Linked DNA regions of Homo sapiens. The protein of the gene in region 1 interacts with the protein of each later gene in a pairwise test. Each region holds a gene or a part of one and is shown in the gene's direction. Other genes may lie near its edges. The genes, in order: KRTAP10-7, NPBWR2, TCEA2 and ING5.

Region 1 (6,747 bases):
TTGCTGTGGAACAAAGTACCACAAGCTTAGTGGCTTCAAATAACACACATTTATCATCTCGGTTTCTGTGGGTCAGGAGTCCAGGCACAGTTAAATTGGGGTCTCTGTAGGGCTGTATTGGAGTGTCTCATGGGAAGGTTCAATTGGAGAAGGATCCACTTCCAAGCTCATGTGATTGTTGGCAGAACTCAGTTCCTTGTAGCTTCTTGGACTAAGTGCCTCAGTTTGTCACCAGCTGTCAACTGGAGGCTGCCATCATCTCTTTCCATGCGGCCTCAACGGGCAGCTCGCAATGTGCTGGCTTTTTCACAGCTAGCCAGGGAGACAGAGTCCTCCCGAGACGAGCATTATGACCTTATGTAATGGGATCATGCACATCCCATCACCCTCTCTGTGGCTCCTTGTGTCTATACACGTGTCACAGTCCCAACCACACTCAAGGAGTGTGGGGCACACAGCCAGTGACCACTAGGAGGTGAGGGACATGGGGCCACCCTAGAGTCTGTCTCCCGCTGTCTGGACAATGTCATGGCTGTGATACCTTTGCACATACCTTGTATCCACCCAGGAGTATCTACAGGATGCTTGCTTAGTGATTCAGGCTTAAAGGCATGAGGTTTTGAATTGTGATGTGTAGCAGCAAACTGCCTGCCAAAGCCGTGGAGCAACCTCAGCCCAGCAGCAAGTCATCTGGGTAGTCTGCCCACACCCTCGCCAACCCATGTTGGGAACATCAATGGTTTTCATTTTTTCCAATATAAAAAATGATATCATATGGCCATTAAATTTGTTTTATCTCATTTTAAATGGGGCTGAGCACGTTTTCTCATTTAAGAACCATGTATATTTCTTTCAATTGTCTCTGTATCCTTTGCTCACTTTCTGTTATGTTTCTGTTATTGATCTTAATAACTCGTGGGAGCTCTTTGGATATTAAGCAAATTAGCCCTTTCTCTGATATACAGATAGGAAATGTGTTTCCCATATTGTTGTCTTTTGACTTGGTTTATAATGTTTTCTCTCCTGCAATTTAAAAATTTTTACATAATTAGTTTTATCGGTTTTTTAAATGGCTTCGGTGTTTTACTCAAAACTTAGAATAGCCCTTTCCACTCTGAGATGATTTTTCTTTCCCTTCCTATCATTATTGACAGGTGTATTAACATCCCCCACTATGATTTTCCCTTTTCTCTATTTCTACTTTTAGCTCTGCCAGTTAAAAAAATTAAAAAACAGTTTTTTATTTTAATTTTTTAATTTTATATTTTAAGCTATGTAATTAGATACATGCAGATTTAGAATTGTTACATCTTCCTGGTAGGTTGACTCTTTTAGCTTTATACATTTCTTTCTTCATCTCTATTGCTCTAAAATCTACTTTTTCTGATATTCATAAGTCACACTAGCATTTTAGTTAGTGTTTGTGTGGTGTATTTTCTTCCATCTTGTTACTTTCAAGCTTTCTGTGCTCTTTTTCTTTTTCTTTCTTTCTTTTCTTTTTTTTTTTTTTGATGGAGTCTCACTCTTGTCGCCCAGGCTGGAGGGCAGTGGTGCGATCTCGGCTCACTGCAACTTCCACCTCCTGGGTTCAAGCGATTCTCCTGCCTCAGCCTCCCAAGTAGCTGAGATTACAGGTGCCCACCACCATGCCCGGCTAATTTTGTATTTTTAGTAGAGACAGGGCTTTACCACGTTGGCCAGGCTGGTCTCAAACTCCTGACCTCAGGTGATCTGCCTGCCCCAGCCTCCCACAGTGCTGGGATTACAGGTGCGAGCCACAGCACATGGCCTCTATGCTCTTGTATTCAGGCTCTGTATCTTGTAAGCAGCATGTAGTTAGGTTTTCTACTTTTTATTCAGACCAACAATATATTTTAATTGGAATATCTGATACTTTATTGACTGATGATTTAGTTTATATCTATCTGCCATCTGACTGTACAATTTCTATTTGTCCCAATTTTTTAACGTTTCTTTTAAAAATCACTTCCTGTCTATTTTGGATTAATCAAGTATTTTTTATTATTTATTTTCCCTCTTCTGTTCTATTCATTATTCGTGAGATAAGGCAAGGCTTCTCTTCAAACAGGCTGCTCAACCTTTTGTTCTTTAATTCCTAGTACCCCCGCCCCCTCTCTTTCTTCTCCTTTTCTTCTTTCTGACTTTACTACATGCCCAGGCATGCCGCAACATCACTAGCATTATCAGCACCAGCTCGCATTCCGTTCTGTATTTAGGAAAAGACTGGCTCTCTAGTTTCCCGTAGATGACCCCTTCCTCCTCTCCCGTCTCTCCCATTATGCATCCATTTTATCTAAGAAAGTTTAAATGTTTAGCCAATCGGGTCTAGTTTAAATTGTGCGGCGCAATCCCAGCCAATGGGGAAAGGACACAGGGGCAGGATCACGTTAGGAATAAAAACTTCTACTCTCCTTTGTTCTGTGTGCTCTCGTGGCAACCAGCCATATGGGAGACACCCTCCTGCACAGACATACATTTGCTTTGCTGAGAAATCCTTTGTCTCAGTGCTCGTTTTTCCTTACGACTCTGAGCCTTATTTCTAACATTATTGATTATACATTGATTATACATAGTTTTTACTATCTCTTCCGTGGTCACTTTAGAGATTATAGCACACATTCTTAGATTATTCAAGTGTAACATATGTCAGCACTTCCGCCGCTTCCAAAACAATGCTGAAACCTTAGAAAACTTTCACTCCATTTATCCTTCTCACCTTTTATTGTTAATGTCATCATGCATTACTTTTCTACTTCTAGTTTAGACCCCACAAGAGATTATAAATATAATAATATTACCCTTTCAGATCCTCCTGGTTCCTTCCTGCATTTTTATCCTTCCGTCATCCTGCCTAAAAAAATCCCCTTTCATAGTTACTGTAGAGTAGGTCTGCTCGTGTTCAGTTTGCTCAGTTGTTATCCAGAATTGTTTTGTTTCATATTTCACCTTTGAACAATGTTCTTCCTGGTCTAGAATTCTAGGTTTGCAGTGATTTTCTTTCAGCTCTTTAAAGATGTCATTCTATTACCTTTAGTTTCTTCAACAGCTCTTTTAGGAGAGCTTTAAAGGAATCATTTTTAAAACATTTTGTTCAGCTTTTCAAGTTGTTCTCAGCAGGAGTATATGTCTGACATAGCTACTTTGTCCCATATGGAAGCAGAGGCCCCCATTTTCTCTCTCTCTCTCTCTCTCTCTCTCTCTCTCTCTCTCCTTCCATCCCATAGGACCAGATCCTGTACCTCTGGAGGGACCAGGCCATGCTCAAATTTATATTATTTTTATAGTTCAAAATATACAGAAAGACAATTCATCCCACCGTGTAACTGAATTTCTAGCCCTCTGAGGCCTTTTGTACTTTTCCTAAATCCCCTAGGAGTTAAGAGGCCTGGACTGGGAAACACAGATAGAGACACAGGACACCCTGAGCCTCTGAGACTTGCCTGGGCATCAAACCCCACCAGAAGGGCCCCTGGAGCCCTCTCCCCTGGGTAGGGGCCACTTCTCAGGGCCGCATGCATGCTGGGCTATGGCTGGTCATCACTGACATCACCAGGCACCAAGCAGCCCACCTCCCTCCCTGGTGGGGTCCACAGTCAGGGTTACTACCCCTTCACTTTCACATTCTCAGCACCTGGTGCAATTTCCAGCATGTGGGAGGACTCACTGCATCATGAATAAATGAATGCTTGAGAAGTAAAAGTATCGGATACAATTGGAAACATTTAGCAGAAACAACCAAAAAGATGTGGTGGCCAATTGGATATTATTTGCAGAAGAAATGGAGACTTAGATCAGATGTCTAGCTGGGGTGACCAAGGACTTAGCTGGCAATCAAGAAAACACACTGCAAGCGAAAGCAGTGCTTGCTGCTTTTCACACGGCAGTGCTGTTGAGAGTGGCTGTGCTTTTTGCGGAGGAGGTGTTCTGGGTTAGACTTACAGGTTTGCAGTGCTTGGGATAAAACCAAATGGAAATGGGGGCCCCAAACAGGGATCTGGGGCCTCCCTAAGTGCCCAGATGGAAGAGGGGGTGCACGGCCCCCCAGGAACTACTGTGAACCTGACGGGAAATGGCTCACACCACTGTCCACCCTTTCCCGTTTGCCACTTGCTCTAAAGCCCTTGGGGGGACTTTATGCACCAGAGAGAGTGTGGGGAGTCACTTCTAGGAATGTTCCACCCTCATGCCATCATTGACAGGGGCTTCTCTAGCCTGGCATTCCAGAAGCCACAGCCACCCAGACAAGCAGAGTCCCCTGGCGATGGCCCACAGGCGCTGGGATTAGGATGGATGGATCTCTCCTGCAGCCAGCACAGGCCCCTGGGACACTCTATTTGCAGACATTACACCCTGTCTACTTCAATATTATGCTCTGGAGCCAAAGGTAGGTGAGGGTGCGTCAACGGAACCAAATATAGACTCAGGACTTTACAAACTGAACGGCATCTCATAGGACTAAACATGAAACTCGCACTAATAAGCGTTCTCTAGGTTTTAAACACAAACAAGGAAGGGGCAGGAGTTGTTGACACTCCAGCTGGGACAACAGACCAGGGAGACATATAAAAGCCAACATCCCTGAGCACCTAACACACGGACTCACTCACTCATTCACTCACTCACCCACTCACTCCCATCTCCTCCAGTTCAATCCCCAGCATGGCTGCGTCCACTATGTCTGTCTGCTCCAGCGACCTGAGCTACGGCAGCCGCGTCTGCCTTCCTGGTTCCTGTGACTCTTGCTCCGACTCCTGGCAGGTGGACGACTGCCCAGAGAGCTGCTGCGAGCCCCCCTGCTGCGCCCCGGCCCCCTGCCTGAGCCTGGTCTGCACCCCAGTGAGCTATGTGTCCAGCCCCTGCTGCCGAGTGACCTGTGAGCCCAGCCCCTGCCAATCAGGCTGCACCAGCTCCTGCACGCCCTCGTGCTGCCAGCAGTCTAGCTGCCAGCTGGCTTGCTGTGCCTCCTCCCCCTGCCAGCAGGCCTGCTGCGTGCCCGTCTGCTGCAAGACTGTCTGCTGCAAGCCTGTGTACTGTGTGCCTGTCTGCAGTGGGGATTCTTCATGCTGCCAGCAGTCTAGCTGCCAGTCAGCTTGCTGCACCTCCTCCCCCTGCCAGCAGGCCTGCTGTGTGCCCATCTGCTGCAAGCCTGTCTGCTCTGGGATTTCCTCTTCGTGCTGCCAGCAGTCTAGCTGTGTGAGCTGTGTGTCCAGTCCCTGCTGCCAGGCGGTCTGTGAGCCCAGCCCCTGCCAATCAGGCTGCATCAGCTCCTGCACGCCCTCGTGCTGCCAGCAGTCTAGCTGCAAGCCGGCTTGCTGCACCTCCTCCCCTTGCCAGCAGGCCTGCTGTGTGCCTGTCTGCTGCAAGCCCGTCTGCTGTGTGCCCACCTGCTCTGATGATTCCGGTTCATGCTGCCAGCCAGCTTGCTGCACCTCCTCCCAAAGCCAGCAGGGCTGCTGCGTGCCCGTCTGCTGTAAGCCTGTGTGCTGTGTGCCCGTCTGCTCTGGGGCTTCCACTTCATGCTGCCAGCAGTCTAGCTGCCAGCCGGCTTGCTGCACCACCTCCTGCTGCAGACCCTCCTCCTCCGTGTCCCTCCTCTGCCGCCCCGTGTGCAGGCCCGCCTGCTGCGTGCCCGTCCCCTCCTGCTGCGCCCCCACCTCCTCCTGCCAGGCCAGCTGCTGCCGCCCAGCCTCCTGTGTGTCTCTCCTTTGCCGCCCCGCATGCTCCCGCCCGGCCTGCTGTGGCCCCACCTCAACCCAGAAGTCCAGCTGCTGAGTGATCTCCTTAAGATCATCCAAAGCCTGAGTGCTCACTGCCACCTGCACCCCTGGATTCTTTACCCTTGACGGCTCTCCACATCCCGCTCCTAAGCCCTGCAGTGGACGTCAGTGGTCAGCTGGCCATCCAGTGTGCGCTTCTCCTCCTAGAAGCAGCTCAGCTGTTTCTCCAAGTCTTGACTTTCCCCCAATTACCCAGCCCTGCTTCCCCAGCAACAGGTGGGCAGTGACCCCAGCAAGGCCAGCGGGTGCTCCCAGGCCATAGCCCGGTGTGGGGAGAAATGAGGGTAGACAGGTACCAACTGGGTTTCTCGTCACTGTCCCAGCTCAGTGGCGAGCCCTGCTCCTCCCCTGCTGTGGGCCTGGGCCTCTTTCTCTGTCTTCCCTGACCACGGGAGCAGGTCAGACCCTTCTAATAAACTCCTTTCCTAAAAAGTACAACTGGAATTCATTCTTGTTGTTCACAACCAAAGACCCCTGCCTGATGCCCCCCACCCGCGGGTGGTCCTGGGCTGCTCCCACGCCACGAGGTCCCTGTCCTTCCCAGGCGTCCTGGCAGCCCTGCACCAGCCTCACCACACGGATGTCCGAGGGGTAGGCAGGACTGAGGGATGGGAGAGGTGAGGGATCCAACAGCAGCGCCTGCCCTGGGTGGGGCTGCTTTGGGGCCTCCCCAGAAACTGGGTTGTGTCCAGCCCCTGGCTCCAGAAAGGAAACCCCATGGCCGTGTGCAGAATGGGTCCACACGGTGGGCGGGGACGGCCATCCTGAGGCCCGCTGGCCGGGCTGGCCCTTGGCTGGCGTCTGGGAACTGGGATTTCCGAGGGGCTCCCCCCGGCCCCGCCTCACTGGGCCTGAGCTGTTTGTACCATGTGGTTTAGGCCGAACACCCACATCCCTGCTGGGAGTCTGGAATTCTGGCGTAGCCCAGGCAGAAGCTGCTCACGTGACC
Region 2 (7,136 bases), on another chromosome or scaffold:
TCCCTGGAGAATTCACCTCCCACTCTGAGGGAAACTGGCCCTGAATTACTTATCTCTTTCGAGAGAGCTAAGCTGCCCAATTACCTGCTTAGAGAACACCAGGCCTGGAACTCTCGCTGGTCTTTTTTTTTTCCTTGTGACAGGGCCCCACTCCGTCACCCAGGCTGGAGTGCAGTGGCACGATCTCGGCTCACTGCAGTCTTGACCTCCTGGGCTCAAGCGATTCTCCCACCTCAGCCTTTCAAGCAGCTGGGACTATAGGCATGCACCACCATACCCAGCTAATGTTTGTTTTTCTGTTTTTTTTGAGACAGAGTCTCGCTCTGTCCCCCAGGCTGCAGTGCAGTGGCATGATCTCGGCTCAATGCAACCTCCGCCTCCCAGGTCCAAGAAATTTTCCTGCCTCAGCCTCCCGAGTAGCTGGGATTACAGGCACCCACCATGACGCCCGGCTAATTTTTGTATTTTTAGTACAGACGGGGTTTCGCCATGTTGGCCAGGCTGGTCTTGAACTCCTGACCTCAGGTGATCTGCCCACGTCGGCCTCCCAAAGTCCTGGGATTACAGGCGTGAGCCACCGCACCCGGCCTTTTGTATTTTTTTTGTAGAGATGAGGTTTCACCATGTTGCCTTGACTGGTCTCGAACTCCTGGGCTCAAGCAATCTGCCCACCTTGGTCTCCCAAAGTGCTGGGACTACAGGTATGAGCCACCGCCCCCGGCCCTCTCACTGGTCTTAATGGCCTAGGCCTCTTGGGAGGACTTAACCTGCAGGGCCACAGCTACAGTTGAGGCTCATCTTGGAGAGCTGATGGAGGAGAGAGAGCAGGGCAGACAGGCCTGGACTCTGGCCACAGGGCAGAATCCACCCCTCCTACCAGGGCCTGCCTGGCTGGAGATGAGATGGTCAACAAGCACACTGGAGTCTGTATGAATCTCTGGGTCTGTATGCCTGCTACACATATGCATGCCCGTGTGAAGATCCAAGTCGCAGCACGGACTGAGGGACAGGTGTCCCTGCACACAGGGGGACAGGTGGAGGGCAGCTGCCACACCTATGTGAAGCGGCAACAAGCGTGAAGCCAGCACAGCTATGTTGTGTGTTGCTCAGGCTGTCCCAGGGTCCTGGCGCTTCTCCCTGGCCCCTGCCCTAGGGGTCTCCTTCAGGTCCCTGCAAGACCCCCACACGCAGCCCCACAAAATGCTCAGATGCACACTGACTGGCACCCATCACTCCCTCACCCCACACCCCAGACAGAGGATGTGCCATGTCAGTGGCCTTGCTGTCAGGCCCCCACCACCGTTCTGCCCAACAGAGCTGACCACGGCTCCCTCCCTCCCTGGCCTCTCCTCTCTTCACCCAAAGGGCCTCACAGGTTCATTTGAAAAGGCCAATTTATTTCTGAAAATGGAAACCATTTCCACAGAACGATGCTCTCACAAGCTCACAGCTGGCTGGAACAATGCCCAGCCCACGAACAGAGCAAAGGGCCTTTCTGAGCCCTGAGTGCTGGGGGTACAGACGGGGGAGCACCCCCGGCTCAGGCCCTGGTGTTGCAGCGGGCATCGGTGAGGTGCTTCTGGGAGGAGGAAAAGGCCCCTGGGGCTGCTGCTTTTGTGGCCAGGAGGACCTGACACCTCCAGCCGGCCTCCCCGGGGTCCTGAGCTCAGCACCTGGCAGTCTCCCCCATCCCCACTGCCCTCAGGGTCCCCATCCCTTCCATCATGCGCACCCCACCTCCAATGTGACCGGCGGGCGGTGGTGCCAGACCAGCCTTCAGGACAGGCTCAGGAGAGCAGAGCTAGAGTCTGGGAGGGGCTCCGATTCCCAGACTCACCAGATACCGGTGGAGGGAAGAGGACCCAGACTCGTGGTTGGCTTCAGAGGAAGCCAGACACACAGTGGGATCTTTGCATGGGAAGATTCTGTGCTCTGAGGGATGCCTCTGACACTGGGCTCCCCACTACTGAGGCTTAAGGGAAGACCCTCCTGGAACACCCTGCTCTGAAGAAGGTGTGGGTGGCAGTCGGTATCCTGCAGGGCAAAGACCAGCAGGGGTGCCCAGAGCTCAGGCCACACGGGGGTCACTGGGCAGGCTGCCAGCCAGCCCTGGGGGGCAGAGGAAGGCACCGGCACTAGCCTGGGCCCCTCCCAAAATGCATGGAAGGGAGAGGCCCCCAGCAATGCCCCCAGGGAGGCCCAGAGTCAGGCAGTGTGGCCAGCCCCACCCCAGGACAGCAGCTCGGTGACAGCAGGCCCCCAGGGAGGCCCAGAATCAGGCCAGCGTGGCCAGCCCCACCCCAGGACAGCAGCTCGGTGACAGCAGGCCTGGGACATTCTCCCAGTGCCCGGTGCTGAGGCCATGGTCGGCCGCTCCCCAGCCAAGACCAGTGACCGCCTGGCCCAGCCCACACCCTGGTCAATGCCTGGGCCACCACATGCCAGGCCTGGCCTCTCTGTGTCACGCCTCTGGTTTCCAGGAGCTGTGAACTGACCCCTCCCGACCCCACGAACACCCCAAATCACAAAATTCAGCCCCAATGCACCCTCTCCTCACGGCTGCTAATCACCATCCCCTGACCTTGTGGGCGTCAAGCTCCACTTATGTGACAAACTGTGGCTACAAGCCCCACGCTCCCTCGAGACACACCCACAGATCCCCCCCACCGCCATCCCCAAACTGGCTGAAGAGGAGTGTGAGATATCTCAGCAGGGTTCCCTGACCCCGGACTCAACATCCACATGGCACAGCCCATAGAAGGGTAGCTCGGGGCCCACCCACAGTGTACCCTCAGGCTGGCGACATCAGGGTACTCAGGGCGACTGCCCAGGCTCCTGTCCTAACCAATAGACTTGACAGAGCAACTCTCAGGAAAGAAGGCCGACCATGAGTGTGCGGTGACATCCTTGCAACCCCACAGGCAGCGGGCACAGTCTCGATGGGCAGACACATCTCCCCAGACTGAAAACACACAGTGACCAGGCACGGTGGGTCATGGCTATAACCTGAGCACTTTGGGAGGCTGAGGTAGAGGCTGAAGCTCAGGAGATCGAGACCAGCCTGGGCAACATGGTGAAACCCCGTCTCTACAAAAAAAAACACAAAAATTAGCCAGGCATGGTGGCACATGCCTGTAGTCCCAGCTACTTGAGAGGCTGAGGTGGGAGGATCACCTGAGCCCAGGGAGGTCAGGGCTGCAGTGAGCCATGATAGTGCCACTGCACCCCAGCCTGGGTGACAGGGCAAGACCCTGTCTCAAAAAAGAAGAAAGGAAAGAAAACACAGACCCTCTGACCCAACACGTCTCCGCTGAGGAGCGGCTCTGAGACTGGCGACTGCTCGTGTCAGCTGTGGCGTTGCCTGCAAAGCAGGTCCAGATGCGGCCGAGCTGCACACACACGGGTTGGATAAGCCAGGGTGCGTCCAGCAAGGAAGAAAAGCAGGGAGAAGGGAAGGACTTAAAGACCAACCCAGAGCAGAGTGTGATGCTCACCACCTCTGCAGGACGGCGGGAGAGTTACGTGTCAGCGTGAGAACGTCTTCTCTGCAGCCTTTCACAGCTTGCCTAGGCTGAGTTCCTCTTTTAGCAAAAGACAAAAAAAGAAGGTGGGTTGCCTATGGCCAACAAGTTCTGCTTCCACATGAGGGCATACAGACCCCCCAGATGCCCACACTCAGCCAAGGACATGTAGACCCACTCAGATACAACGCAGAGCTCACCCACAGAGACCCCCATACAGGCAGACACAGGCCCACACACGTACATGTCCTAACTGGCACACACACACAGGAACACACCATGTACACACACAGGGTGGGGCAGGAGACCCACCAAGACACCCATGTTCACAGATAAGGGTGCCCAGGCCCACAGTGACTCCCGGACAGAGGCACAGATGCCTTCAGTGCCCTCTGCCCGAAGACCTGGGCACACCCAGAGGCCCCTGCATGGAGTCCCTTCCTGACACACAGGCGCACACGTGCCTCAGCCGCCCACTGAGGAGTCTGCCTGGGTAAGTGAATGCTGAGGAGACCCTGGGACAGCCGACTGCAGGCGCTACTGCAGCTCAGGGGAAGGTGGGGCCTGCCTTCCGGGCTCCACGTCAGCAAGGGGGATCCGCCTCCCTCCCTCACCAGCATCAGCACTGACACCAGGCTGGGAACCTCGCAGCCGGGGCTGAGGCAGCCAGCAGGGCAGGTCTTGAAACTCCTGAAACCTCAGCTGGAGGTCTGTCAGTGAGGACCACACCTCGCCCTCCATCCCTGCGACTGCCTGTACTGGCCAAAACCAGGAACACACCAAGGCTACCAACTTCTGGACTCGAAGCACTGGACAGGTCAGTGGAGAGAAGAGTAGCTGGACCAGCAGGGTCTGCAGCATCTCTCGGGAGGGTGTGAGGGAGGGTGCAGACTCCAAGACCCCTGAGGGAAGGACCTTCAGATTCAAGGGAGCCAGAGATGAGCTTGGGAGGTGTGTTTCCAAAGGGACCGCTTGATTCTACGCAGCCCGTGCATCTGCGGGTTGCTGGGGCAGGGACGGATCCACATCTCTTCCCAGGAGGGTGGCCAGCAGCTGCTCTCTGCGGGAGGAGGGAACTGATCTGCTGAAGTCTCACCAGGAAGAGGCGGGAGGAGGCCCCCACACACCCCACCAGGCTCCCTCTGGCCCCATGTCCTTGACCTGGCAAAGTGGCCGCAGTCTCTGCCAGAGAACCTGGAGTGGCTGTGCCCTAACAGACGGCCGGATCTCAAAGTCTCTGGTTGTTTTTCTTTCCTAGAATCCAGCCCAAGGAGGCCCCCAACCAGATACCCAACTCCAAGGCACCTCCCACCTGCCCAGGGCGCAAATCGTCAACGGTCCCAGCTACAATGCAGGCCGCTGGGCACCCAGAGCCCCTTGACAGCAGGGGCTCCTTCTCCCTCCCCACGATGGGTGCCAACGTCTCTCAGGACAATGGCACTGGCCACAATGCCACCTTCTCCGAGCCACTGCCGTTCCTCTATGTGCTCCTGCCCGCCGTGTACTCCGGGATCTGTGCTGTGGGGCTGACTGGCAACACGGCCGTCATCCTTGTAATCCTAAGGGCGCCCAAGATGAAGACGGTGACCAACGTGTTCATCCTGAACCTGGCCGTCGCCGACGGGCTCTTCACGCTGGTACTGCCCGTCAACATCGCGGAGCACCTGCTGCAGTACTGGCCCTTCGGGGAGCTGCTCTGCAAGCTGGTGCTGGCCGTCGACCACTACAACATCTTCTCCAGCATCTACTTCCTAGCCGTGATGAGCGTGGACCGATACCTGGTGGTGCTGGCCACCGTGAGGTCCCGCCACATGCCCTGGCGCACCTACCGGGGGGCGAAGGTCGCCAGCCTGTGTGTCTGGCTGGGCGTCACGGTCCTGGTTCTGCCCTTCTTCTCTTTCGCTGGCGTCTACAGCAACGAGCTGCAGGTCCCAAGCTGTGGGCTGAGCTTCCCGTGGCCCGAGCAGGTCTGGTTCAAGGCCAGCCGTGTCTACACGTTGGTCCTGGGCTTCGTGCTGCCCGTGTGCACCATCTGTGTGCTCTACACAGACCTCCTGCGCAGGCTGCGGGCCGTGCGGCTCCGCTCTGGAGCCAAGGCTCTAGGCAAGGCCAGGCGGAAGGTGACCGTCCTGGTCCTCGTCGTGCTGGCCGTGTGCCTCCTCTGCTGGACGCCCTTCCACCTGGCCTCTGTCGTGGCCCTGACCACGGACCTGCCCCAGACCCCACTGGTCATCAGTATGTCCTACGTCATCACCAGCCTCAGCTACGCCAACTCGTGCCTGAACCCCTTCCTCTACGCCTTTCTAGATGACAACTTCCGGAAGAACTTCCGCAGCATATTGCGGTGCTGAAGGGCCTGGGCACCATCACCCCCATCATCATGCCCATCATCACCCCCCATCATCATCACGCCCATCATCATCATGCCCACACCCCCATCAGGCCCACCCCCCCCCACCCCCACCACCACCCCCACCATCACCCCCACCACCACCCCCATCATCACGCCCATCATCATGCCCACCCCCATCACATCCACCATCACGCCCACCCCCATCACCCCCACCCCCACCATCACGCCCACCATCACCCCCACCCCCACCCCCACCCCCATCATCACGCCCACCCCCCCCACCACCCCCACCATCACCCCCATCATCACGCCCACCCCCACCCAGTTCCGGCTGTCTCTTTCAGGGGACGCCCGGCCTGTTCACATCCCAGTGCTGTCCTCTCCACGCAAGGAGACACAGACCCTCACACGCTGGCCACCAGACCTACAGACAGCCGTGGGCATATACCTCCCATGTCTCTGCTTCCTGGACAGCCCCTGGGTGGACAGCAGCAGGGATCCAGGTCCTGGCAGAGGCCCCCACACAGCAAGCATCCCGGGCCCACTTACCCACGAGAGACAGACAGATGGACAAGCCCCTTGGAAGGCTCTGGGACTCAGGATCCCTAATGACAGTGGTCGGGAGGGGAGGGAACCTGAACTGTGATCTTGACCTGGGCCACGTTACATAGTCTCTCCCCAAGATGGGGCCGGGGGGTGGTAAGTGCGGGCACCTCAGGCAGCAGCGATGCTGTGTTGCTGCAAAGGCGGACACCTGCACCGCATGAGACCCAGAAATCCACTCTCGTGGCCTGAAGCCCAAGTGGAGTTCCAGCAGGAGGCCCAGCCCCGCCGTGCCCATGTGCCATGGCCTGTGCTGCTGTGTTCCCCCTGCTGTGGCCGACGGTCCTTGCCATGGCCTGTACCCGCCCTGCTGTGTCCGACAGTCCTCTCCATGGCCTGTGCTCCCCTGTGCCCCCCTGCTGTGTCCGACGGTCCTCTCCATGGCCTGTGCTCCCCTGTACCCCCCTGCTGTGGCCGACAGTCCTCACCATGGCCTGTGCTCCCCTGTGCCCCCCTGCTGTGGCCGACAGTCCTCACCATGGCCTGTGCTCCCCTATACTCCCCTGCTGTGGCCGACGGTCCTCTCCATGGCCTGTGCTCCCCTGTACCCCCCTGCTGTGTCTGACGGTCCTCTCCATGGCCTGTGCTCCCCTATACTCCCCTGCTGTGGCCGACGGTCCTCTCCATGGCCTGTGCTCCCCTGCTGTGGCCGACAGTCC
Region 3 (7,944 bases), on another chromosome or scaffold:
TCCACACCTGTCCGACCAGGCTCCCCACGTGCCCTAATGCAGCCCCGTAGGCTGGGCCCACGGCTGACACCCCTTCCTGAGGGATCCCCGACCTGCCAGCCGTTGTCCTTAAGACGCCACAGCATCTTGACCTCCCCGTCTGCAGCCTCTGTGGGCCTCCACTGGGACCCACTGAGACATGTCAGGCTCCTCACGAGCTCTGTCTTGTGTGGCCATGCCCAGGGCCCCAGGACGTAGAAGACCACCTGGCATCTCATGGAGGAGGAAACAGGGCCCAGAGTGGGACCTCCACTCAGGCTCAGCAAGGGCCGAGTCCCAGTTCCTGGAGTCCTAGTTGAGGCCCCTCCTACACAGAGCACAAGGTGGAATTCACGGGGTCATAAAGGCAGCCAGTTCTACCAACACACAGTTATGCAAATATTTTCTTAAAGTGTGATATCAAAACCCAAGTGCTTCTTTACCAATCTGCTGAACAAGATGTGACTCACTGAACAGCCTCTGCAGTCCCAGCAGCAGCGAGTGTGGGGGTGCGAGGCAGTTCCCATCTGTGCCGGGTCAGCCACGGGCCCAGCTGACCAGATTTGGTTCATGGCCTCGTTCATAACTGAACGAACGACACCTTTCTGCTAGAGGTCGGTATAAAGGAGATGATGGGCCGGGCACGGTGGCTCACACCTGTAATCCCAGCACTTTGGGAGGCCGAGGCGGGTGGATCACCTGAGGTCAGGAGTTTGAGACTAGCCTCACCAATATGATGTAACCTCGTCTCTACTAAAAATACAAACATATTAGCCGGGTGTGGTGGCGCATGCCTGTAATCCCAGCTACTTGGGAGGCTGAGACAAGAGAATTGCTTGAACCTGGGATGCGGAGGTTGCAGTGAGCCAAGATCGTGCCACTGCACTCCAGCCTGGGCAACAAGAGTGAAACTCTGTCTCAAAAAAAAAAAAAAAAAAAAAAGGAGATGATGGTTTCTTCCCACCAGTTTATTTTCTGTCAGGGGTTTGGTCTCTGGGTCTCTGACCCCCTGGATTGTTGAGACGCCTCGCACTGTTCCCTCCCATCTTGCCCGACCGCCCCCCACCAGCTCCCAGGCCCAGTATGTCTCTGTCCCACCCCATCGTCTCTATAGGCCCTGTCCTGCAGTGGGTTCTGTCCCTCCCTGCAGCTTGGTAAGGTTGTTGAGGCTTCAATACACACTCCAGACCACATCCCTCTCCCTCCCAACTCTGGGACACTCTCTGCACCTCTGAAAAGAAACTCCCAGCCCTTCTTGTGCCTCTCCCTTCCTCTGGGCACCCCTTGTTCCTTATCCATCCTGGCTGGCCTGTGGCCTGTACTTCTGATCTGCACACAGGTATCACAGAGGACAGAGACCCCAGGGCCCCAGCCCCTGGTGGGGGCGGGGAGTGCAAGGGGGCAGTCGTCTTTGTTCTCGACCAGCTCCCAGCTCCCTAGGTAATGCTTTAAGAGTTACCGTGCTAGGGGATCTTTGTGGCTGAAAACATTCAGATGAACCAGATATTTAAAAGCATCCCTCATGCAAAGTCCCTCCACTGGTTGGGCCGGCCTGGGGAGGGTCAAGGCTGGGTCTCTAGTCTGGTTTTCCGGGGGCGTCTGTGTGCACTCCTTCCCCAGAACCTTGCGCTTGTCCATCCCAGGGAGAAATCAGGTGGGGAGCGGCCTCACTGCTGGCTCCTTGATAGTGACTTGCTCCAGAGGTCCGTGCTGATACCCCAGACCCCGCCCCACCAACACTTCAACTGGGACTGCGGCGTATGCACAACTGCACAGCCTCCTCTGGCAGCTCCTTGATGCTTCTGGGACGTTGACCCTCTCTCCTTTGCACCTCCACTCTTAGGAACTTGCAGCTCTCTGGGGTTAGTTCTCCTCTGTGCTGTCTGGGCTGCACCTCCTGCCCAGGAGGGGCCTCTCTGTGCTGCAGCCCTTACCAGCATCTCAGGATCTGCAGTCCTGATACTTGGAGGTCTCCCCCCCACCCCCAGCTTGAGGGCTGGCTTCCTTTCGGTGGTCTTCAAATCAACTCACACTCGGCCGTTGGAGAAGCCTATGTGTCTGGCCAGGCAGGCTCCATGGATGTGGCCAGTGTCTTTGTGGACGGTGGGAACCAGCTTTGAAACCCTGGCCGCCCGGACCTCCGAAGCCAAACTTTCTGGGGTTCCTGCACAAGGGCAGTTCCAGTGTGGCTTCTACAGGACCCTGACCAGCTCCTTGGTCTGGCTGTCAGCCATTGAGACAGTGGTTGAAGGCTGGGTGGCTCTAGCCTCCCCTCGTGCCTCTGATGAGGCTGGACCCTTCAAGTCTTCATATATGCCCAAACCATGGGATTCTGACCACGAGGACTTGCTTGGATGGTCTAGGCTGGAAGCTATGTCCCCAGCTCACTGTGAGGGGCAGAATCAGTCAGTATGGAAACCGTGTTCATCTATTAATAATAATAATAATATAATATCGCGGGGCCTCTGTCTTAGAAAGGCTTTGCTCCTCACAAGGAATTCTATGCTTTTTCCCTATGATTGAGCTTTTTTTTTTTGCGACGAGTCTCACTCTGTTGCCAGGCTGGAGTGCAGTGGCATGATCTCGGCTCACTGCCAGCTCCGCCTCCCGGATTCAAGCGATTCTCCTGCCTCAGCCTCCTGAGTAGTTGGGACTACAGGCGCATGCCGCCATGCCCGGCTAATTTTTTTTTGTTTTTTTGTATTTTAGTAGAGACGGGGTTTCACCCTGTTGCCCAGGCTGGTCTCAAACTCCTGAGCTCAGGCAGTCCACCTCCCAAAGTGCTAGGATTACAAGCATGAGCCACCGCGCCCAGCCTGAGTCTTTTTTTTTTTTTTTTTTTTTTTGGAGACAGTCTCACTCTGTCACCCAGGCTGGAGTGCAGTGGCACAATCTGGGCTCACTGCAACCTCCGCCTCCTGGGTTCAAGTGATTCTCCTGCCTCAGCCTCACAAGTAGCTGGGATTACAGGCATGTGCCACCACGCCCGGCTAATTTTTTTTTTGTTGTTGTTTGTTTTTGAGATGGAGTCTTGCTCTGTTGCCCAGGCTGGAGTGCAGTGGCATGATCGCCGCTCACTGCAAGCTCCGCCTCCTGGGTTCATGCCATTCTTCTGCCTCAGCCTGCGGAGTAGCTGGGACTACAGGCGTCCGCCACCACGCCCGGCTAATTTTTTGTATTTTTAGTAGAGATGGGGTTTCACCGTGTTAGCCAGTATGGTCTCGATCTCCTGACCTCGTGATCCGTCTGCCTTGGCCTCCCAAAGTGCTGGGATTACAGGCATGAGCCACCATGCCCGGTCTAATTTTTGTATTTCTAGCAGAGACAGGGTTTCACCATGTTGGCCAGGCTGGTCTGGAACTCCTGACCTCAGATAATCCGCCCACCTCAGCCTCCCAAAGTGGTGGGATTACAGGGGTGAGCTACTGTGCCCAACCAAGATGAGTCTCTCTCTCTCTTTTTTTTTCTTTTGAGACGGAGTCTCGCTGTTGTTGGCCAGGGCTGGAGTGCAATGGTGCTATCTTGGCTCACTGCAACCTCCGCCTTCCGGGTTCCAGCAATTCTCCTGCCTTAGCCTCCCAAGTAGCTGAGATTACAGGTGCCCGGCACCACACCTGGCTAGTTTTTGTATTCTTTGTAGAGACGGGGTTTCACCATATTGGCCAGGCTGGTCTCGAACTCCTGACCTCAGGTGATCCACCCGCCTGGGCCTCCCAAAGCGCTGGGATTACAGGCATGAGCCACTATTGCCCGGCTAAGATGAGTCTCTTAACTGACCATATTTTCCTTTTCATTTTGGCTGCGGGGAAGCTCAGTTATATGTGATTAGTGCCACAGACAGCCCAAGAAATGCTCAGCCCATTCCACCTGCCACCTGGCCTCATAGTTCGTTGGCCTGAACTTGAATGACTACAGGCTCCTTGATCCACACCCTCCCCCAGGATTGTGCCCTCTCCAGGAAACCACCCAGCATCTGCATTACTGGGGAGCTGCCAGGCAGTGGTGGGGATGCTGGCCCTGCACCTGTCCCCGTCCTCAACCCTCCCTAGGCCTGGGCCATCTCTCTGGCTGCCTGCAGTCTGGCCCTACCTAGGGACCTCCAACAACAATGTCAATGAACACTAATTGTCATGCTCCATCCCCTCTCTGTTCTCAGGCATGTGATGTGAATCAGCTGACATCATCTTGACGGGAGCCCTGTGAGGCGGACACTTAACTCCAGTTTCACAGGTGGGGAGACTGAGACACAGTGGTCAACGTGCAGAGCCCAGAATCTGCTCCCTGGTAGCTGACTTTGCAGGCAGGGGCCTTGCCCACGCAGCCTCGGCAGAGGCCCCCGCACTTCGCGAACCCCAGCAATGGCCCCTTCCAGACGCCACGTCCAGCTACCGCGCGCTCACACCTGCAGGGCCCCACAAGAGGCCTCCCAGTGTGCGCGGGCCTCTTGAAGAAGTAACTCTACTCAGAAGCCCGAATGACCCAAACTGGGCTCTGGGAGGCTGGGGACGGCCTTCTAGGCCAAGTGGGGCGCGCGCAGGGCTCAGCGGGGCCCAAGAGAAGGGCTGAGGGCACTGGGTCCTGAGCCACCCACCGAAGGACGCCGCGGGACAGCAAGGCCCGAAGCAGGAGGAGAGAAGGGAGCAGATTCCTGGGCCTCCTGGGGCCCGGTCGCTCCGGGATGTCTGAGCTCTGGGAGGGGCGTGCCCGGGGCGCCTCCCTCGCGGGGTATTGTGGGATCACGAGTCACTGGCGACGGTGGGTCAGGACTACACTTCCCAGGAGGCTGTGCGCGCCGCGTGGCGCCTGGGAGTTGTGGTCCAGAGCGCGGGCGCGGCGGGCGCGGCAGGCGGGCGCGTGGACTACGCATCCTAGGATGCCGCGCGCGGCCGCGGGGCCGAGGGTTTGAACCGGGGGTCTGTCGTCCGCGGCGGGGCTGCGTCGGCTGCGGCGGGTGTGGGAGGTGGCGACGGCCGGGGCCGGGGTCCTGCCCGGCTGCGGAGGCGGGCGCGACGGGCGCGGGGGTCGCTGCTCCTGAGGCGATGATGGGCAAGGAAGAGGAGATTGCGCGGATCGCCCGGAGGCTGGACAAGATGGTGACCAAGAAGAGCGCGGTGAGGGGCGCGGGCCGCCAGGACCCCGGGAACCCCGCCCCGCCGAGACCCCGTCGAGCCCGCCGACCCCCGTTAGGGCCGGAAGACGACCTGAGGGGCAGGACGAGACCCCTCCCCGGCAGAGACTAACCGGGACGCAGGGGAGACCCCCACCCGTGGCCGAGACCCCTGCCCCGGGCCAGCCCTGCCGTTCACTCCCGCAACCCCGGCAGAGGCCGCGATCAGGCCTGGACCTTGTCCCGGGAGAGCCACCCGCTCTGGACTCAGACCCCTCCCTCGCCCGCAGTCACAGGCTCCGCACCCTTCCCTGTCCCTTAACTCCAGACCCCCAGCCTGGCCCGTCGACTCCTTCCTTGGCCCTGTCCCGCCTCTCGGAGCCCCCGGGGTGTTCGGGCCTCCTCTGCGGGCCGCGCCAGCCCCTTGCCTTCCTCCATCCCGGCCTGGGCATCCTCACAGGCCGAGCCCCGCCCCCCAACTCAGCCCTCTCCCACGCTCCGTCTCTTACAGCGTTTGTCACCCTCCGTCTCCCATAGCATTTGTCGCCGGCAACAGTTTGGAGTCTGAGGTTGGATCCCCTTTTCTTCTGGAGCTTCCGTGCCTCCCCTGCCTCTTCCCAGCCCTTGTCATCCTCCTTCACAGGCCAGCCAGATACCTGTCTTGCCTGTGGGCCCATTTTCTTCCCTGTCTGTCCCCACCCCACAAGAACCAGGTTTCTCTAATAAATTCTCTCCCTTCTTTAGCCAGGACTTAGCCCGCAGCAACTTGGGTTGTGGGTAGTTATGTGGACACCCTCCGAAAAGAGCCGGTGTGCTTATATAAGAGCCAGGAGGTCGGGCAAGCCTCCTCTGGGAGTGTCTGGGCGCTGGAGCCTCTGGCCGGCTCTGTTCACTGCGGCCTGGGCCTCTGTTGTCTTGCGGCCACAGCGAGACTTTGGAGGAGGCTGTGTGTGAGGACTTTGAAGGGGCCAGGTCAGTGGGGGTCCAGTTCCAGCGTCATGACCTTGGCAACCTCTGCACCCTCCCACAGAAGCATCTTTAGAGGATGCTGCCTGCCTCCTGGGGGGTGGGGAGGGGTCTGGCCGCAGGTCATTTGGAGCTCCTGGCTGGCTCAATAAACGTGACCTGTGCTTTCCCACCCAGACTGTGAACTCCTGGGGCAGGGCCAGCTGTGTGTCTGCCAGGCCAGCCCAGGGCGGTGAAGGTGGCTGAGTCATGGGCTTTGGGTGATTTGTGCAGCCACCCCAGGGCTGTGTGACTGCAGTGGGGGTTTGGGGGAAGCTTTTTGGGCTGAGCAGGGTTGAGTCTGGGTTCCTGTGACCAGCGTTCTGGACTGGGGTCTGCCCTGGGAAGGGGTGGGCTCCCACTCATTCCTGCTGGGTGCAGCACCCCCATCATTGCGTTCACACACACCCCGGAAAACTGGTCAGCACAAAGTAGGGGTCTGCGAACCATTCATAGCTGTTTCCAGAGATGACCCGAGAATGGAGTTGTTCCCCTTCTTAAAGGAGACAAAACACAAACGATAAAAGCTGTAGGTGGGAGAAGCAAAGATGGGTCATGGAGCCAGGGGAGGGCTGGGTGGGGCTGGGCAGAACTGATGGGGGGTTTCTGGTGGAAGAACAGCTTGAGTAGAAGCCCCAGGGGAGAATGAGGAGGGGAGGCGGGCGCTGTGCAGTGGGGAGTGGGAGCCAGCAGAGCCTCCTGGGGGTCCCAGTGCCTGAGGTCCCCTCGGGGACCTGGGGGCCAGGTGTGGGGGTTTTTTTGCCTCTGGACCTGAGCCCACTGAGAGCCACGTAAGCAGGTGCAGGGCTTTCAGGGGACAGTGGCCTTGGCTCTGGCTATCACCTCAAGGCTGGACTCTGTACAGCCCAAGAGGCAGGGCCTGCCTGGGAGGGCTCAGGAGGGGCTGCAGCGTGAGCAGACTATGCCACCCGGATTGCTGGGGTTGTGCGGGCGGTAGGTGGGACAAGCCCCTCCCATGGCCTGTGGGTCGTGGGACTCTGATCAGGTCACCTTAGGGCAGAGGGAATGATACACACGTGGAAACACATGCACGTGTTACAGAGGAGATGGGGTGTTGCAGGGCACAGTTGCAGTTTTAAACAGGAGAGGCCTTGCTGAGAAGGTGTTGTTGAAATAAAGCCCGGGAGGGAGGGAGGGAGGGAGGGAGACGTTGTGGGAGGCCGCCCCAGGCGGTGGAGCTGCAGGTGCAGAGGGCCTCGGTGGCGGCTCAGCGCCCTTGGGGAGCACTGAGTTGCCGGGCCTGGTGTGGAAATGTGACCGGTTTGTGCCTGGCCTCGTCAGTGTTGAGGACCTGGAGGAAACGCAGATCTTGGGTGGGGAGACAAGGCGGAGAGAACGAGGTGCATTGGAACAGTCCAGGCGAGGGGTGCTGGCCTGCTTGGGGGCAACTCAGAGGCCTGGAGGATAGATGAGGAGGGGGGCTGTGGGCCTTGTAGGTGTTGGCTGTGGCCGTGCCTGGAGTGGAGGGACCCTTGAAAGTTTGGCCTCAGCTCGGGACACTGATGTTCCCGGGTTGGCCCTTCATGAGAGTTTGGCCTCAGCTCGGGACACTGATGTTCCTGGGTTGGCCCTTCACAGCTGGTGGGCGGGGGGTGCTTTGGGGAGAGGCTGCCCTGCGCATCAGGGCATCAAGACACAGGGGAGTGAATGAACCTGGGGCTGCAGTTTCACCTGGGTGTGGCCCTGGCTGCTGGGGAGGGGCCGTGGCTCTGAAGCCTCATGATTGGCCAGGGGAGCTGGCATTTCTGTTCTGGTTTGGGTCAGTGACCTGAGGTGGTTACAACGAAGTCAGT
Region 4 (7,020 bases), on another chromosome or scaffold:
GTCCAGGCCAATAGGGCTGGGGGCCTGGGGCGGGGCAGGGTCTCAGCTTCAGCTCCACCGAGGCCCCTTGAGGACCTTGAGGTTTCCTCTCTCGCCTCCTGCCCCAGCGGCTTCCACAGTTGGTAGAAGTGCGGGGGAGGAGACCAGCGGTGCCCGAGCAGACCCCTTGCTCGAGAACTCCGAGGTTGCAGGGATTTTCCCTCTGCTTTTAGTTGCTCTGTGCAGCCTCTGGACTATAAATGTCGGTGGGGACGCGGCCGCCATGTGTGGCTGTGTGGGCTCAGCGTGGCCCAGTGGCCAGCCCAGCCCTCACTCAGTGCATGAGGCAGGCGGACGCCGCCCCCAACCCCCCAACACCCCCCACTCTGGCTGCAGGTCATCTAGCTCTTGTTGCTCCACAGCTCCCCGACATCTTTGAGAATGTGGTTTTTGTGACTTGCTGGGTTTTGTGTTTTCTAACTCAGTGGCAACAGCGTTCTGAGTCTTCCTGCTCCTTCCTGCTCGGAACCTGAAGGCCCTGTCCCGACCGTGCCTTTTCTGCGTGAAAGTGGGACTCCTCCTGGTCTCTTCCTCACCCAGTGCTGTTTCTCAAGGGTATGCTAGGCATAAGGAATGCAGGCACTGGGGGTCCTCGTGGGGGTGAAGGAGACTCCAGCTCCCTGTTGGGGTCGGGGCTTCCTCCCTGAGGGCTCTGCCCAGCTTCAGAGACCTCAGGAACAGCCAGCACCTCTGCAAACACAGGAAGATCCACTGTGGCCTCATGGCTTTTCCTGTCCTGACAGTGCGCTGACCAGCACTGTTTAGTAGCAATGCGGAGCCTGGGAGCTCAGCGCTGCCTGCCGTGCAGGTCCCAGTAGTGACAGATGAGAAGGGTGATCACCGATGGCGACAGTTGCGGGGCCCTGCGGCTCTGGATCTAGCTTGTGTGTGAATCTCTTTCTTCTCTGTGCCCCCAAGTGGCAGTGCTGCTCCTGTCCCATTGCAAGACGTCGAGACAGGCTGGTAAGGCCAGCTCTGAAGCTGGGCTCTGACGTCCAAGGCGCCAAGGAGGCCCCTTCCAGAGGGACAGGAGGATGGTGCAGGTGGGCAGACGGGTCATCCTGAGGACCAGTCGGTTGGACCCAAAGCCTGGCCTGCCGGGGCGGGAGTGTGCACTCGGGTGCCTCCAAGGGCATCATCCTGGGTGTGTGCAGGAGCCCGCCTGCCCCTGGGCTCTGGAGTTCTGTGGTGCGCGTCCCTGACCCATCAGCACAGTGGGTATTCACGCCCCTCGTGGTCACGCTGTGGTGCCAGGCCGCTCTGCCTCAAGGCAGGTCCTGTTCCCTGCTGGGGACCCAGGCGCACGCACCATCCTGTCCCTGTGGACTGCCCTCTTCAGGCCTGTTCCCCACGTGCCCGGGGCTCTTCCTGGAATGCAGTGTTCCTAGACTGCACAGATGCTCCGTGTCTCGTCTGAGATCCCGTGACCTGAGGCTGCCCCCTGCACTGTTGCTGCCCTGTGGCCTTGCTCTGGCGAGGCAGAACCTGTGTGTGTGGATGAAGGGCAGTGTCACCTGTAGCACCTGGAATCCCGGGGCTTGGACAGGCAGCCAGCCCCCTGCTAGGAGCCACGTGGAGTGCTGGGAAGCCATCGGGGCCGGGCGCGGAAGGGCTCGCTGGCACCGTCTGGCGAGGGGTGCCTGCCACACCCTGGGGAGTTAGCACAGAGGGTGCCTCTTGTGGCAGTGGTGCTGAAGGGAGTCAGCAGCCGCTGACAGTTGGGGTCACCCTGGCCTGTGCAAGGGACAGGGCTCCCCATGGCCTCCTGGTTGCCTCCCTCAGGGCTGATAGCAGCACTCCCTGGCCACACGCCATGGCGCTCCCTCAGGCGAGACTGAGAGGCCAGTGAGGCCTGCACGGTGGCCTCAGCTTCTGGGGTGCCCTTGCTGGGCGGTCCCCTCAGGCCCCCGGCCCTCTCCCACAGCCATCAAATCTGGCCAGCGCCCTCGAACCTGGTGATGCTGAGACACAGGTCAAGTGGCAGCTCAAGATGTCAGGTCGGGCTTTGTGGACAGAATTGGACTCGGCGCAGAAGAGGAGGGCGTCAGCGTTTCGGGGACGGTTGGCAGCAGAGGGTGCTGCCCTGCTCTCCGCGGGTGAGAGGTGACTCGAGGAGACCGCAGGAGCCCCTTGGAGGTGAAGCCACAGGTGGCATCCCGGAATCGGCAGGAGGCTGAGACGTAGACCCTTGCGTGCTGCTGTCAGAGGAGAGACCCGAAGACTACTTGAGACTGTTGCTTGAAAGCAGTGTCGGCAGCACCTGGACCTGGACTTGTGACGCTGATGGATTTCAGCTCTAAAGAGAAACCCCTGTCTATTCCCAGACAGAGAGAAAGAGCAGAAGAGCAGATTACCTGCAAAGGACAGACTTAGGTGGGCGCCCCTGTGCCAGAGGGCAGCGGGGAGGCCGGGTGCATGCTGAGCCCGAGTGTGTGTGTATGTGTACAGGCAATTGCAAAGGCGTAGAAAAGCTTTAGACAGGTATCCAAGGAAAAGCTGAGTGTTGATTCCCTCTGGGACCCAGACTTCTGCTCCTTGGCTTTCCCTGATCGTGACTGTTTTTCTCACGGCCACGTTCCTCCTGCTAACCTGCTGTGTTTACATACCAACTAGATATTCGTGGGTTGGAGGGTGGGATAGGGAAGATACTTTTTCTTTCTGTACTAATGGGAATACACTGTCTATAGTACCTGCAGCTTGTAAGTTTATTTGAAAAATACTGAAATATAAAAGCGTAAATTTCCCCCTAAGTGCATCCCTTTCAAACAGGAAAGTCTCCACCTGAGGTCTGTGGTCCTGGTGGGACGGCCATGGTGCTACAGGTGGCAGGCTTGGAGGGAGGCATAGACGGGGTGGAACACCTGCCAGGCTGCTGTGTAGAAACCCACGTGGGAGCTGATGGGGATGAAGGAGTGACAAGGATGGTGTGTGGTCGGAAGGGGCCCTGTGCCAGGTGGACAGCTGGGTGGGTGGTGGGCGGTCCAGGGAGTGTGTGGGGAGCTGCTGGTTGAGTCAGTATTGGGGCAGAGGTGCCTGAGTAGGTGCGTGGAGGGCCCGGGCGCAGGACGCATGGCTGTTCTCTTGGGAGGAGGTCACAGTTACGGGAGAGCTGTTGACTGTGCGGGCTGCTCTGACACCTGTCAGTCTGGAGTGGGAGGCTGGCAGGCTTCTCTCAGGTGTCAGCCGTCTGCTGGCAGAGGTGACGTGTGCTTGTTTCCAAAGGGGCCGGGGTCTTTGGAGGGATGGCCCAGAAGTGGGTTGAGTCCAGAGGTCCCCGGGGGAGTCCTGTCTGGGAGGAGGGACCGAGATGAGAGTGGACTCGTCCCCAGAGTGGGACCAGAACCCCGGTGCTGTGGGTGAGTGCTGCGCTTCACGGCCTCCTGGGGGCCCTCTGTGCCCCCATGCCCCTGCCTGGGCCCGAAGGTGGGCGCGAGGTCTCCACCCCTCTGCTGCCAGCTGCTGCTGTTCCTGGATTTTTGTGGGTAACTGTTCTTTCTAGCATCAGCTGACAATCTGTTCGTATACTTAATGATTTTCTTGCTGCGCCTTCTTAGAACATTGCGTGTTCAGAGGGGTTATTGAGGTTTTGAAAATGTGTGCTCCAGGAAGAAAACGTCCACAAGGTGTGTATTCAGTTAGTGCATGACTGCAGTGGCTGGCCCTGGAGTCGCATTCATTTCTAAAGGACAATGGGAAAAATGGAAGCAAGCTTATTCATTATGTGTCGCTCAGAGCACGGTACCAATTTCCCCCTTGGAATGATTGTCTTCACAGTTTTGGGGTGAGGGGGCCTTAAGTCAGAGACAGAAGGGCCCGTGGTGTCCGTGCCGCCTCACTTCCCACCATGGCCTTCAGTGGTGCCTGTGCCCTGTCCCCTGCAGGTCTGAGTTCACTGACACCATCCTGTCCGTGCACCCCTCTGATGTGCTGGACATGCCCGTGGACCCAAACGAACCCACGTACTGCCTGTGCCACCAGGTCTCCTATGGGGAGATGATTGGCTGTGACAATCCAGACGTGAGTGTCGCCTGCAGGATTCGCGCCATGGGGCGGGGTCTTGTGTGGGGCAGGGCTGGCGGATGTTGGCATTTCTTGTGTTTTGCATACAGAACATGAGGCGTGTTGACTGCGGTTTCTCCCTTTACTTTGCAGTGTCCAATTGAGTGGTTTCACTTTGCCTGCGTGGACCTTACCACGAAACCCAAAGGAAAATGGTGAGTGTGGGGACGCTCGCTCTGTTTTCTCCCAGTCTGCTGGGTGTTGCGCTGCTGGCCTCCCCAGGAGAAGGTGCTCCATGGCAGAATCTTGCCGGGCTTAGCGGGACACGGTAGCCACGTAGGCATGCCCCACTGTGGCCTCAAGGAGTGTGGCTGGCTGGTGGCTGCTCTGGGTGTGGCTTTATCCCCCCTTTGCTGCTGTGCCTGTCCGAGCTGGCAGAGGGATGCCGTCACCCAGGAATGGTGGTTACCAGGTTACGTGATATTCACGTTAATGGCCCCTCCTGAAGGACAACCTTCCGGACTCTGGGAGGTAGGGATCGTCTTAAATCAGAAATGAGAGGTTCTTGTCCCCTAGGGAAATTTGGGAAATATAGCATGAGATGTGAGCCCTGAAGCCGGGGCATGGATCTGGGGCTCTGCCCCTGGCTCTGTCTAGTGGAGAAGGGTGTGTTTTCTCTACCTGACCCTTGCATCCCCTTGGCAATGGCAACTTTCTGCATTGTTGTTCCTCAGATTTCATTTAAATAAAAACCTGTAGTCTGGGCAACATCGGGAGACCCCAACTCTACAAAAAATACAAAAATTAGCTGGGCGTGGTGGTGCGTGCCTGTGGTCCCAACTACCTGGGAGGCGGAGGCGGGAGGATGGCTTGAGCCTGGAAGTCCGAGGCTTCAGTGAGCTGAGATCGCGCCACTGCACTCCAGCCTGGGCGAGAGAGCAAGACCCTGTCTCAAATAAATAAATAAAAAGATAAAAACCTGGCTTTGTTTGCCTGTGCTGAAAATCTAAAAATGGATATCTATGTTCTGAAAATGAAATCGGAATGTGCTCTTCTGTGTGGCACTCAGAGGTCATCGTGGCAGCGTGTTTGAAACTCCGGCAGACTCGCCCGAGTTGGTAAGAGCCAGTTATCCTTGGTGTTCGGTGTGAGGACACAGGGAAAGGATGCCGTGTCTCGGAGGCTGGCCGAGCTCACGGTGTCATGTGGCGTCAACACAGGCTGTCCTGTCACAGGGACACATGGCACTGTGGTGCCCCACGCCGTGCGGCTGGGGGATGGTGCACCGAGGGTTTTGAGAAGGGGTACGGAGGCTGTTAGGGCGGAGGGCCCTGGGCAGGCTTGGGCCTGGGCCAGGCGGTGGTTGACGGTTGCCGTCATGCGAGTCGGCTGCCTCCTGCGTGGGGAACCTATGGAATGTCCTCTGTGGTCAGCAGCTGCCTCTGTTCAGGAGCCCCTTGTGCGTGCAGCTCCAGAACTTGCTCAGAGTCACCAGGGAGCACTTGTGAGACGGCAGCTTCCAGGGCCAGTGCAGGGTGCCTGGCTGGGTTTCCGTGGGCCTGAGGGGCTGCCATGCTCTCAACGCGTGCTTGGTACCTGCAGCCCCCACAGACTGCAGACAGAGGGCACCAGCGACCCTGCCATCGGCCGGGGAAGAAGGACCCACCTGTTAAGGAGGAACGCCTGGGTGTCAAATCGGTTTTGCTCATTGATGGTGTATCTGTCAGCTTCAGAACCGGCGTCCTGCATAGAGCCGCACGTGCATCGGCGCATTTTCCCTGCGGGAGGGCCGCGGCCCCACTGCGTGTGCCTCTCCTGGTGCCCTCCTGCCGGCGTCCAGCAGCCCTGGGAGACATGGGGAGGCGGGCCCTGGGCACCCTGCGCGCTGGCGGAAATGGCGCCCAGGGCCTCACTGCGCCTTTCTTGTCACAGGTTCTGTCCACGGTGTGTCCAGGAAAAGAGGAAGAAGAAGTAGGAGGAGCTGTGTGCCCGGATCCGAGGAGCAAGTTAATCTGTCCCTTCATTCGTGTCGCAATATTTCCCTTCCTTTTAAAACTACCTTGTTCGGTTGATACTTAGTAACTCCGTGGCCAGTTGAAGCGCTGGATGTTTCCTAGAACAAGAACCACCAAAGCCTGTTCGCACAGAAGGGCGACCTTGCAGGGACTCGCCGCCGCGACCTCAGTGTGGCTTTTACAGGACTCCCCCCGAGCATCAGCAGGGACCCCGGCGGACGTGGGCGGGCGCGCGTGAGCTCGGGCTGCCCGGCCGGGCGTGCGGGCGGGGACATGGTAACCTGGTCCACGGAGGGCGGCCGCCACCCTCGCGTAGCTTTCCTGTGGTTTTCCAGGACTGTCCGGTACAGCCCGGGCTCCGCGTGCCCCGCCCGCTGGAGCACCTGCCACCGAGGCGCGCGTGGGGCCACTGCCGTGGCGGCGGCTGCCCTCCTCACACTCGGCTCCGCGCCGCCTCCGGCCACCGTGCGCTCCCGCGTGGGGCGCCTCGGATGGGCCCGGGAGGGCTGGGGGCTCTTCCCTGGAGGAAGCGGCCTCCGCTTCGCTGGCGCCGCCTTTTTAGCTTGGACTTCAGTCCTCCCTCGGGGACTCACCTCCGGAGTAAACGGCTCTTCATTAGCTTGGAGTGGCCGCAGGTCCCGTGACCAGCACCCGCGAGACCCTGTGCGACAGCTGGGCTGATGCTCCGTTTCTCTGGGAATTGGTGATTTTTTACTGTGAAGATGAAATTACCCTAATAGCATGAAGATCGTGGGTCTGTGTGTCCGTGAAGTGAGTCCCGTCTGCCAGGAGCTGACGAACCACGAATGCTTCTGCCTGTGCTGTGCATTCCCAGGCCCGCAGCTCCCGGTCGAGGGGACTCCGATGTGAATTTGTTGTGAATTTGTTGTGCCACAATAGCAGTTCTGGAATGAAGCTAGGAAACTCGAGTGTGCTTTTTGTTTAATGAGCGTTCACCAAGCTGAGC

The links.
Region 2: the proteins of KRTAP10-7 (region 1) and NPBWR2 interact in binary tests that used the Homo sapiens proteins (3 or more experiments, as listed by UniProt).
Region 3: the proteins of KRTAP10-7 (region 1) and TCEA2 interact in binary tests that used the Homo sapiens proteins (3 or more experiments, as listed by UniProt).
Region 4: the proteins of KRTAP10-7 (region 1) and ING5 interact in binary tests that used the Homo sapiens proteins (3 or more experiments, as listed by UniProt).

What each region holds. Positions count from the first base shown.
Region 1 is NC_000021.9:44,595,942-44,602,688, forward strand, and holds KRTAP10-7 (keratin-associated protein 10-7), read left to right. Parts: upstream 1-4,655; 5' UTR 4,656-4,680; coding exon 4,681-5,793; 3' UTR 5,794-6,233; downstream 6,234-6,747. UniProt on the Homo sapiens protein: In the hair cortex, hair keratin intermediate filaments are embedded in an interfilamentous matrix, consisting of hair keratin-associated proteins (KRTAP), which are essential for the formation of a rigid and resistant hair shaft through their extensive disulfide bond cross-linking with abundant cysteine residues of hair keratins.
Region 2 is NC_000020.11:64,104,566-64,111,701, reverse strand, and holds the start of NPBWR2 (neuropeptides B/W receptor type 2), read left to right. Parts: upstream 1-4,136; 5' UTR 4,137-4,338; intron 4,339-4,779; 5' UTR 4,780-4,870; coding exon 4,871-5,872; 3' UTR 5,873-7,136. UniProt on the Homo sapiens protein: Interacts specifically with a number of opioid ligands. Receptor for neuropeptides B and W, which may be involved in neuroendocrine system regulation, food intake and the organization of other signals.
Region 3 is NC_000020.11:64,058,256-64,066,199, forward strand, and holds the start of TCEA2 (transcription elongation factor A protein 2), read left to right. Parts: upstream 1-4,942; 5' UTR 4,943-5,057; coding exon 5,058-5,129; exon of another isoform or gene 5,130-6,097; intron 6,098-7,944. UniProt on the Homo sapiens protein: Necessary for efficient RNA polymerase II transcription elongation past template-encoded arresting sites.
Region 4 is NC_000002.12:241,719,019-241,726,038, forward strand, and holds part of ING5 (inhibitor of growth protein 5), read left to right. Parts: intron 1-464; coding exon of another isoform or gene 465-603; exon of another isoform or gene 604-957; coding exon of another isoform or gene 958-1,104; exon of another isoform or gene 1,105-2,789; intron 2,790-3,920; coding exon 3,921-4,056; intron 4,057-4,191; coding exon 4,192-4,253; exon of another isoform or gene 4,254-4,772; coding exon of another isoform or gene 4,773-4,773; exon of another isoform or gene 4,774-5,107; coding exon of another isoform or gene 5,108-5,108; exon of another isoform or gene 5,109-5,156; intron 5,157-5,640; exon of another isoform or gene 5,641-5,970; coding exon 5,971-6,013; 3' UTR 6,014-7,020. UniProt on the Homo sapiens protein: Component of the HBO1 complex, which specifically mediates acetylation of histone H3 at 'Lys-14' (H3K14ac) and, to a lower extent, acetylation of histone H4. Component of the MOZ/MORF complex which has a histone H3 acetyltransferase activity.